Linked DNA regions of Homo sapiens: region 2 is linked to region 1. The links come from fine-mapping of genetic effects on gene expression. A gene starts in region 1. The other region holds a variant in brackets. All regions are shown on one strand. Distances are between the middles of the regions. Region 1 holds the start of RYR2 (ryanodine receptor 2). Region 2 overlaps RYR2 (ryanodine receptor 2).

What was found. PIP is the estimated chance that this variant, and not a neighbour inherited with it, causes the effect.
Region 2: its variant is the best candidate, but not a certain one, in a credible set for the expression of RYR2 in esophagus mucosa (GTEx, PIP 0.88).

Annotation. Positions count from the first base shown.
Region 1 is chr1:237,039,338-237,044,713 of GRCh38, forward strand. It overlaps RYR2 (ryanodine receptor 2), which reads left to right and starts at 2,847. Exons shown (of 105, transcript NM_001035.3): 1 at 2,847-3,232. The coding sequence starts at 3,185.
Region 2 is chr1:237,109,361-237,114,736 of GRCh38, forward strand. The region is part of intron 1 of RYR2 (ryanodine receptor 2); the gene reads left to right. Among named protein-coding and RNA genes, the nearest start is that of RYR2, 70 kb to the left of the region's middle. The variant T/C (reference allele first, on the strand shown) is at 2,961.

The sequences.
Region 1 (5,376 bases):
ATAAAATTAGTCATAAAGAAGAATACTTCCCAAATTTGGACTAAGAAACATAGAAATGTCATCCTCTAAACTTTTTATTAATAATTTTATGATTAATAAAGATTTAAAATGTAGTATCTATTGAATATAAAGATTATATTATAATAAAGCAATATTAAGATAATAAAAAGCAAAATAAGCTATTATACATAACACGAATTTAGAAAAAGAGAATTTTTTTTTTTTTTTGAGATCAGGTCTTGCTCTGTTACTAGGGTAGTGGCTTGATCATAGCTCACTGCAGCCTCAAACTCCTGGGCTCAAGCAATCCTCCTACCTCAACCTCCCAGTAGCTAGAACTACAGGTTTGTGCCACCATGCCTAGCTAATTAAAATTTTTTTTTTTTTTGGTAGAGATGAGGTCTCCATTGCCCAGGCTCGTTTTGAACTCCTGGCTTCAAGCAATCCTCCTGTTTTGGCCTCTCAAAGCACTGGGATAACAAGTGTGAGCCATTATGCCCAGCCAATAAATATTTTAATAAAAATTACAAAATATATAGATATCAAATACTATTTTCTAATGAAAATTGTAAATAATTTTTTTCTATTTAATGAACTATAGTTTTGTGCCTAGAAAAAGGTCTACTTGTTAATTTCTTTTAGTCTGAGTCTACAATAAGAATTAAATACAGTAAACATAAACTTTAAGCTGTATCCAAATTTTATGTATTTTTTCTCAAGTACACTTAAAATTGAGGTTAGTTAGTATCCTATGATCTCTGCACTGGAATTCTTACTACAATTGTCCACCAGAAGAAGAAACTAGGGAATTATAACTAAATTATCCAAAAGGGTTAAATTTTTTTTAAAAAAGCTATAAGTAAAAAGTTTCCATAGCTTTCACTGAAGTTGCTTTCTTGTAAAAATTATTTTGTTATGTAATTATGAAATATAACAGAATATCAGAGTACCAAAAATAATATTCCACCAATATGCCCATCACCAGTATTAAAACACTTGTTATATTTGCTTTGGTTTTCTTTTTAAAAATAAATGTTGTATATCATTCTCAAACATATTTTTATACTTTTAGAACAGACTAGAGATCTATAAACCTCATAGTTTTGTATTTTTGTGTTTTAAAGTCCACATACACGGTGTGTTTTATAAATAGTCTCTGCTCTATGTCTACTTGCTGTTGAAGACTGTATGGGGTGAATAAGAAACATCGAGTGTCTAGGCCTTTTAGCATTATTCCACTTACATTGAGAGAACTAAAGAAATAATAACCATAACTCTTGCTAGAACAGTTTACAGCCTAGTTAAAATGCCAAAATGAAGACGTGGTAAGCGTTTTTATATTATTTTACCTACCATCTGGGTAGAATGGAGTAATTAAGAAACCTGTCTCTGCATAGTTCTGAATAAAATAGTTTAAAACGTCAATTTGATACGTTCTAAATTTGGAAGATCAAATCATTTAACATTAAATCAGGAGCCAATTTCAGAATATAGTCATTGCTCATGGAGGACTCTTACCCGACTTTTTGGGAGCTCACTGGTTGTTCCTTTAGAGACTCGTAAGAGTAAACATTCACATAAATAATAACGGTTTAAGAGTTGGTTAGTCGTCATGGCTACAGGGATAGGTCAAGTTTTTAGGTAAGGTGACTGGTATACTTCCATGAGATAGGGCAGAACATTACTAGTTCTACCACGGACAGCGAGTATTTATACACATATTGTCATTCTCCTGGAAATTTACAAACCTACCCCAGTAAGTACAAAGTTAATGAATGCTAAAAATAAAATATAAACTGTATAGAACTCAGTGGTCGATTTTAATAATGAGTTAGATGCCGCAGAATGTAAGATGTAGGTAAACGGACGCAAAAATCCTTGTTTTACAATGTCTGCATCTCCGTAGTACTGACATTTGAAAACTTTACTTTGCACATACTTATTTTAAGTACGATAAATGAAAGCGCTGTGGACTAGGAACAAGAGACAAATTGCTTTCTTGTCCAAATTGTCTCAGACCCTGTATTTTCTTAGTCATAGCCGTTTGTTAAGTAGGCATTTGGTAGACTATTGCATGGAGGATTGCGAGAGCAAGATATTACTATCTGCGGTGGAATGCTCGAATTTCTTCTCTCAGCAAGGATAATGGGTAGCACAGTCTGACTTTAGACCCATCCAGTGGTTCAGACTTATAGATAGTATCCCATACTTTACCGCAATTCCTTGTTGAATTAAGGCTTGCACTTCGAATACAGACTACACACTTCTGGGTCTGTCTTGTACCACATTGTCTGGCATAGGCGCTCACTGTATATTTGTTGAATGTTAAAGTTCTGTGCACCAAAACCGTGCACTTTGCATCGATTATCTGCGAAAAGCATGGTACACTAAAACTAGATCTTGAAGAATTCCCATTTGATCATGAATAGAGGTAATCCACGTTTAAAATACCAGGTGTTGCGTAATCTCTACTTGGAGATTAGCCACCCCGTGCGCCCAGGTGAAAGATATCATTCTTCCGTGCGATCCGAAGTGCCGTGGAAGTTAGTGCCCTAGCCCAGTCCAGGAGGAAGGGGCGTCGTGCCGGCGGTTTTAAGCTCGGAAGGGGCAGGGGAATGAGCCCAGGGACCCCAGCGGGGCGCAGGTAGGAGGCTGTGCGCTCGCCGGGTGCGCTCCGGCCCCGATTCCCAGCGCAGCCAGTAAGTGGCGCTGGGCCTCGGGTTTGGCGGCCCGGAGGAGCGGGCTGCGGATTACCTGCAGCAGCGGGGAGCCGCCGAGCTCCTCCCCGCCCGCCCCCACACCCCACCCCCACCGCTGCACTAACCCCGGCTCAGCTGGCTCCGCGCACTTGCTCGGAGGAGCCGGGGCCGAGCGGACCGCCGGCTGCAGGCAGCGAGCGCGGCTGGGCTGCGGGGCTGCTTCCCCGCGTCCTCCGGGCCCGGGCCGCCCTCCTCCCGCACAGTGCGGAGCAGGGAGGCCCCGCGCCTCGACCACCCGCGCCCGAGCGTCCGCGCCTCCTCCTCCGCTCTGCAGGCGGGGACCGCCCGGCGCTCGGCACCCGGCAGCGCGGCCCCCTCCAGCCCCCGGCTCCCGGCAGCAGAAGCAGAAGGCAGCGCCAGGGGCCGCCGCCGCCGCCGAGCTCCGCGGGGCTCGGGAGCCGGCCCCGGCGAGGAGGCGCGGAACCATGGCCGATGGGGGCGAGGGCGAAGACGAGATCCAGTTCCTGCGAACTGTAAGCGCCGTGCGTCGCGTGTGCTGTCAGGGGAAGGGGGCGTCAGGGCATCCACTAGCGGGGTCCGGGCAGAGTGACAGCGGGCAGCGGGGACTCGCGGGCGGGGCGAGGGGGTGCCCCCTGAGGATGCGGGAGGAGCGGGCATCACCAAGTGTGTGCAGGTGTGCGTGTTGGGGCGAGGGAAGGCAAGGGCGCGTGTCTGTGCGCGCGTGTGGAAAGCTAGAGGATGGAGCGCGGCTAGCCGGCGGCAGGCGCCCGGGCTCGGACCCGGGGCACCGGGGACAGGAGCGTCGGAGCTGCGGGAACCGGGAGAGGAGGGGACGGCCGGTCCGGCCTGCCTGGTGGCACGGCTGGGACCTCCCGGGCGGCCGGGGGCAGGGTGCAGAGCAGGGTGGCCCGTGGGGGCGCGGGGAGCGGCGGGAACTCGGGCTGTTTCTGGGAATACCGCCGCCGGGAGGTTTCTTGGGCTTTCGGGCTGGACCCGCGCGTTGTCACGGAGCGAAGACGTTGGTTCGCTTACTCCGTGTAGCGTGCGGCGCAGCTGACCGGGGGCGGGGGTGATGGTGCAGGACGCTGCGCGGAGGTTTCCCCCAAGTCAAGGTGCTGCGAAAGCGGAGGAGGAGTCGCCTCCGTGGTCCCCGCGGTTCCCGGGGCTGGTGCCATCCGTGGTGGTGCTGTGACCGCTTGCAAAGCGTGGAAGGCATGGGAAGCGAGCGTGTGTTTGCGTGTGTGCGCGCGCGCGGGTGGTGGTGGGGAGAACATCGTGAACGTGTCGTTCTCTAAATGCTGGCTTATTGCATGCCAAGTGAAGCAAAGTGTGTGTGTGTAAGTGTAAGGGCAGGGTGGCTGCCCGGGAAAGGTTGGCTCCACACTAATACAATTCTTTCTCCTTAAGTACCTCTTGGCACTGCTCCTTCCTTTCTCTCATTTGTTCGAACACTGCAGATACTTCCCAGGCTGAGGCATTGCACACCTCCAAGCTGGGACTGGAGAGCCTCTCCAGAAAAGAAAATGCCCTAACTTCCTGCTAATAATAACCTAGTTAGCATCCTTTCAGTCGTTCCTTCTCCACTTCTGTCCTCCTTCCCGAAGGATGTTCCCTTGCAGGATTCCCCAGACTTCCCCAACCTAGAACTGCAGCTTCTGCTGGTACTTCTTTCCTCAGCAGTACAAAAACAAAACAAAACAAAACAAACAAACAAACAAAACCACTTCCCGGTTACAGTTACCTATAATCACAGAAAATCGTAGATACGGTGGAATTTTGGAATATTAACTTTTAGGTGTGAAAATAGTCTTGATGTATTTGGGTACTAAACATATGAAAACAGCGAATTTGCAAAGGAACGTTGTAAACGACTGTCTCTTTCTCTTTTGTGCATTAAACGGACTGGGAGAAAGCTTTGGGAAGGATAAAAACCCAGGGTCCACATCAGATGACAACCTAATAGTAATCCAGTCTAATAGCTGCAGGTTATGCACCATTGCATATGCTTTTTGAAGTACTGTTGGCCCAAGACCGGGCTTGGAAGAGCCTCTTCACTAATACCTTGGTCACGGTGTATAAACCTGCTAGTAATACAGTTGTCTTTTTCATAGAAAATAGACTATAAGGGTTTTTTTTTTTTTAAGTAATTAACACCACATTAGATTTTTCTCAAAACTAAGGACTATTTTATTCAGGTGGACAAATACGGTTGCTGTATAATTTTTCAATCAATTCGTATCAAACTCTGTGGGGTTAAAACTAGCTGGGACATTTTGGTAGGCTTCATGCACTCAAGGGCTTCCTGCGGGCTTAACTGTTAAGCCGAGCTCATGGAGGTGGTGTTATCAGAATGCTTAATGGGGACCGAGGGAACGTGCTGGCTGATGAGGTTCTGCACATATCAAGTAATGTCAACTCTGTGCCACTCAGCAGCTGCCTGTCAGCTAGAGCAGCACCTTTGATAAGTGGGTCCTGGGTAGAGATCTGGCAGTCCCAGGCTGGGATTTTTCTTTTAATAAAACATCCGTAGGTTGCTGTGCTGACGACAAATGACCTTGAAGGAGGTGACACAGTGGAGCAGGGGGATTTTTTTTTTTTTGGTATAGCATTAACATCTAAAAGGAAAACATGCCTTTCCTCACAATTTTCCAATTTT
Region 2 (5,376 bases), 70 kb after region 1:
GGCAAAGAATATGCAGTTAAATTCAGGCATGGAGAGAAAATTGCTTTGAAAGGAAGATTTTTTGCATTGACTTTTGTGTGTGACATTAGCTGTCTGTTTTGGAAAATCTAAGAGCAATATCTGATTATCTATGCTTTCCATCCCTAAAACCACCAACACATAGAGGCTACTGAATCTCCCGAAGGGCCTCGGTGATGGGCCTGGGCAGGAGGAGGCCCCTGCAGCCTGTGGGTGGTGCATGGGCAGCATCTCCTCTCTGCAGTGTCCTGCAGCAGCAGTGCAATGTGATTGATTTCAGAAATTTAAAAAATATTTGCTGACACTGCACTCCAGCCTGGGCGACAGAGCGAGACTCCGTCTCAAAAAAAAAAATAATAATAATAATTTCCTGGGATAGGTAGGGGAAACGGAAATTTACATGATTGCCAACCTGACTACTGATATTTTCCAAGGAAGATTACCTCTGTGAGGGCCTTTTTGCTTTAAATGTCACCTTCATGGTGTTCAGCAATGTTCACTGAGCGTATGACCTGGCTTTGTGCACCGAGAAAACTGCCCAAAATAACAGGTGCCACAGCTTGGTCACAAGACAGACACAGGGCCAGTAAGGTGCTGTCAGTTGTACCCCCTATGCTAAGCTGTGAAATTCTAATCCCCCGGCCCCACTTTCTAACCGTGGAAATGTTGGGTTGTGCCATATCCTGGTATGAATTTTCTTTGTGGAATGATAGGCCCATAGAGTTAAGTTTTCTCTACTGCTGACTTTTACTCACTTAATTTTTACTCAAGTTCTTAAACTTGAGTGTGCATCTGAATCCCCTGGAAAGCTTGTTAAAACGCAGATTGCTGGGCTCTGGCCCCAGAGTTTCTGATTAGGTGGGTCTGAGGTGGGGCCTGAAAATGGGCATTTTTTTTTTCTTTTTTTAAAAGTTTTAGGGTACATGTGCACAATGTGCAGGTTAGTTACATATGTATACATGTGTCATGCTGGTGTGCTGCACCCATTAACTCGTCATTTAGCATTAGGTATATCTCCTAATGCTATCCCTCCCCCCTCCCCCCATCCCACAACAGTCCCCGAAGTGTGATGTTCCCCTTCCTGTGTCCATGTGTTCTCATTGTTCAATTCCCACCTATGAGTGAGAACATGCGGTGTATGGTTTTTTGTCCTTTCGATAGTTTGCTGAGAATGATGGTTTCCAGTTTCATCCACGTCCCTAAGTTCCCAAGGGATGCTGATGCCTCTGGTTTGGAGTCTGCACTTTGAGAACTCTCGCTCTAGGCAAAGCTGGCAAATTTGTCTCAGGTAGGGGCACACCTGCTATCTTCCAGGTAGGCACTGTTCCTCTACTCTTCTGCGTCATCTCAGCTTCATTTCTCCCTCGGGGTACCAATGCTCTGAAACCTCCTGCTGTGGACTGAAACATTCTCTTTGGTTAATTCAAACTGAAATATTCTATTTGGCATCAACTAACATTTGCATATTTCTGGGGGACCAGCCACTTTGCTGCAAGGTGCTTGTATTTGTTATTTAATCTCTACCACAACCCTGTGAGGTCAATTGTGAAGTCCCCCTTTAATGAGACTCAAGAATTCAATGACATTTTCAAGGTCAAGCACGATGCCAGGTCTCAGGCTTGGAGCCTCTGGTACTGGGCCACTGGTCTTCCTTCTCTCTAGCTTCAACATCCTTCTGAAGAGCAATTGGGTCCTTTGTGAGGATGCTTCGAGGTTGGACCAAGTAAATGAATATCTGTTTGGTAACATTGTTGACACTGCTGTATCGAGCTGCTCTAAGAAAGGGAAACATTTTTGGTTCAGAGGACATTCACAGCACTGTGCTTGTTGGAGTATTTGTACCATTGCCTCTTCCAACAGTTACATTTTGCTCTTCTTTCCCTCAAGAGTAGAAGAGGGTGGAGAAGAGGAAATGATTATAATTCATTCCTTTCCCCTCCCTGCCAATTTCTCACAATACCCTTATTGGGAGGCCAAGGCAGGTGGATCACTTGAGGTCAGGAGTTCAAGACCAGCCTGGCCAACATGGCGAAACCCTGTCTCTACCAAAAATACAAAAATTAGCCGGGCGCGGTGGCAGGTGCCTGTTGTCCCAGCTACTCAGGAGACTGTGGGAGGAGAATCGCTTGAACCTGGGAGGCGGAGGTTGCAGTGAGCTGAGGTCGTGCCGCTGCACTCTAGCCTGGGTGACAGAATGAGACTCCGTCTCTTTAAAAAAAAAAAAAAAAAAAAAAGGCACATTTGAAGTTCTGAGTGTGAAGTGTGCTTCAGGATAGTAAATGGAAATGGCAAAAGAAAATATCCAGTGGAAATCTTTGCCATCTTTGGGATTCTCTTTAGTTTTTGCTCATTTTTGCCTATCCTGCAAGGGTAACAGAAAGCTCTGAGATTTGGAGGTCAGACAAACCTGTCTGGCTCCTGCCCTGATTCTGCTCCTTGAGGGTTCTAGTGCAGGGAGGACCTCTGGCAAGTTGGAGGATTGTACCTCTCTGAGCTAGAGAACTGGCAGAAGGACAAAATGTAATTTACTCCACTGTAAGCCCTTGGAAAGCAGGTACCTTGTCTGTTTGGCACCCCAGTGGCAGCCCATGCCCAGCAGCTGTCATTGGTTGGGGGTGGGTGGTGGGTGAGTGCACCCTAGTGGGTAGTTGGAGGATTAAATGAGATAGTATGCAAATAGAGGAGAGTAGGTAAGTTCCCCCTCCATCACTGGATGTTTTTGCTACTTCCCCTACTCTTTTGTTTGTTTGTTTGAGATGGAGTTTTGCTTTTGTTGTCCAGGCTAGGTGCAACGGTGCAATCTCAACACACTGTGACCTCCGCTTCCCGGGTTCAAGCGATTCTCCTGCCTCAGCCTCCTGAGTAGCTGGGATTACAAGCGTCCACCACCACGCCTGGCTAATTTTTTGTATTTTAGTAGAGATGGGGTTTCACCATGTTGG[T/C]CAGGCTGGTCTCGAACTCCTGACCTCAGGTGATCCGCCCGCCTCGGCCTCCCAGAGTGCTGGGATTACAGGCGTGAGCCACCGTGCCCGGCCCCCTCCTCTCTTTTTATCTCTCTGCTCTTTAGTTAGCTGGCCTCATGATTCCCATTTTTATTTTGTTTACCTTTTCTGTTAAAGAAATTTTTGCCCAGGCTACCCTTTAGGCAGGGAGGAGAACTTCCCCCTACCTCTTCTTTCTAAGCTACAACATCAAAAAAAAAAAAAAAAAAATTAGCTAATGGCTCTCCCCTTCCAGGCAAATTTCTAGGATTAAACGACTTGATGCTTTTTTGCTCTGATCCAGGCCCACCTTTCCAGCCCACATATAGTAATAATTATGGTTTTATGTTTTTAGGGCTCCACTTTTGTTTGATTTATCTCCCCATGAGGATGTAAGCCTCTTAGGAATGGGGATCATGATTCTTCCTGACTTTTAAAATAACAACTGTTTCTGGCTCCTATTTGGTTTATGCTCCATCATGTAATTTGCTGTCATTCTTGTATTCAGCTGATTTATCCTTAATCCTGTATCTCGGTTGTTTGCTTTTTTATCCCTAAGTGCCCTACCTTGCAGAGCCCTGGCGTCATATAACTATTTATTAAATAAGCTTCACGGAACCTCAACGGGGACTCTGTTCACATGTACCAGCAGTGTGCTCCTTCTCCTTTCTGCATCCAAGACATGATCCTCAGTAGGAATTGAGAACAAAACCCAGCTCTTTAGCCAAAAATGGTTTCTGAGGTTCGGTTTTCATAAATTCAGAAAGGGGGCTTTTTTCCCCTCCATCTGGCCATAGGATATTGTTGGCCTCTCTTTTATTTATTTTATTTTATTTTTATTTTTATTTTTATTTTTTGAGATGGAATCTCACTCTGTCGCCCAGACTGGGGTGCAGTGGCATGATCTCGGCTCACTGTAACCTCTGCCTCCTGGGTTCAAGCAATTCTCCTGCCTCAGCCCCCTGAGTAGCTGGGATTACAGGTGTGCGCCACCATGCTTGGCTAATTTTTTTGTATTTTTAGTAGAGATGAGTTTTCACCATGTTGACCAGGCTGGTCTCGAACTCCTGACCTCAGATGATCCACCTGCCTCAGCCTCCAAAGTACTGAGATTACAGGCATGAGCCATCGTGTCCAGCCGGCCTCTCTTTTAGAAGACTCTGTCCCATTGTCCTTTAAGGGCATGTCACTTCCCTGGAGGTCAAAATCATGTCATACTAGTTTTTGCAATCCACAGCTCCTTGCACAATTCCTGGCCCAGGGAGTGGGTACATCATCAATGTGTGAGGAACAGACTGCCATGAAATAGTGTAAAAAATCCACATAGTACACTTGTGAGAAAAGAGATAAGAACCAGAATTTTCCAAGCAAAGGGATAGAGAGCTACAAGGTGGAATTCAGCAGGCTCACACCTATTGGGTGTTAGAGAGATGAACTTAGATCACATTTATTTAAACATCTCTGAGTGCAGTATTTTTAAAGATCACACAAGAATAAAACTGTAGCACTGAACTTTTCTTTAAGTGTTGAAGTGAAGGAAATGAAGAACTCAGCACGGACCCTGCTTAGACTCCGGCAGAACAGGTGGTCTTGACATGACGTCGCTCCAACATGCACGCAACTTGCCTTTTATTCTCTCAGCTCTTTGTGCCACTAGTACATGGTCACCTGGGCATTTCTTTAGAAAGGGTGCAGAGACTTTCATTTCGTGAAAATATAGATGTCCCAGGGAAAAATAATAATCCAACTGGTATAAGTTTATATCAAACCATATGGAAGTGATTTTTTCTGGTTAGTCATTTTCACGGGGATTAGAGAGTAGAGAAAAGTCAAAGAACCAGGGATTCCCAAGGACACACTTGGCCTGGTCAATATTACTAGGATTGGCCCAGATGCCACCAAATCCTTTTTTCTTCCTACTTATTGAAAACCCTGTTAAATTTGATATGTGTAATATCTTTTCTCTAAAATTTTAGCCTTGCAAATAAAATTTTGCATAACATTTTTATTGACAAGACATTGTGTCACATTAAGGCTTTTGAAGGTGATGAAATGGACATGACATCTTCACCTTAGCAAGTAACACTGAATTAAAGAAGTTTGTATTTCAGAGTGGAAGAGTACAGTATAAAATATTTGAATTCAGACACTTTAGAGCTTGGACCCTGTCAGAAGCTTGGAAATACTTCGATTTTAAAGCTGCTACTCTTCCATTTACCTCACTCCAGGAAATCCTTTTAGAAATCATACTCTTGAGGGAAGAAGACCTAGGGGATAGAGCATGACTCCACTGAGAAATTTAATTTAGGAAAATAATGGGGGAAGGGGCTGTAGCCTAGAGGCTAAAAACCCATGCTCTGGAGCTAGACTGCCTGGC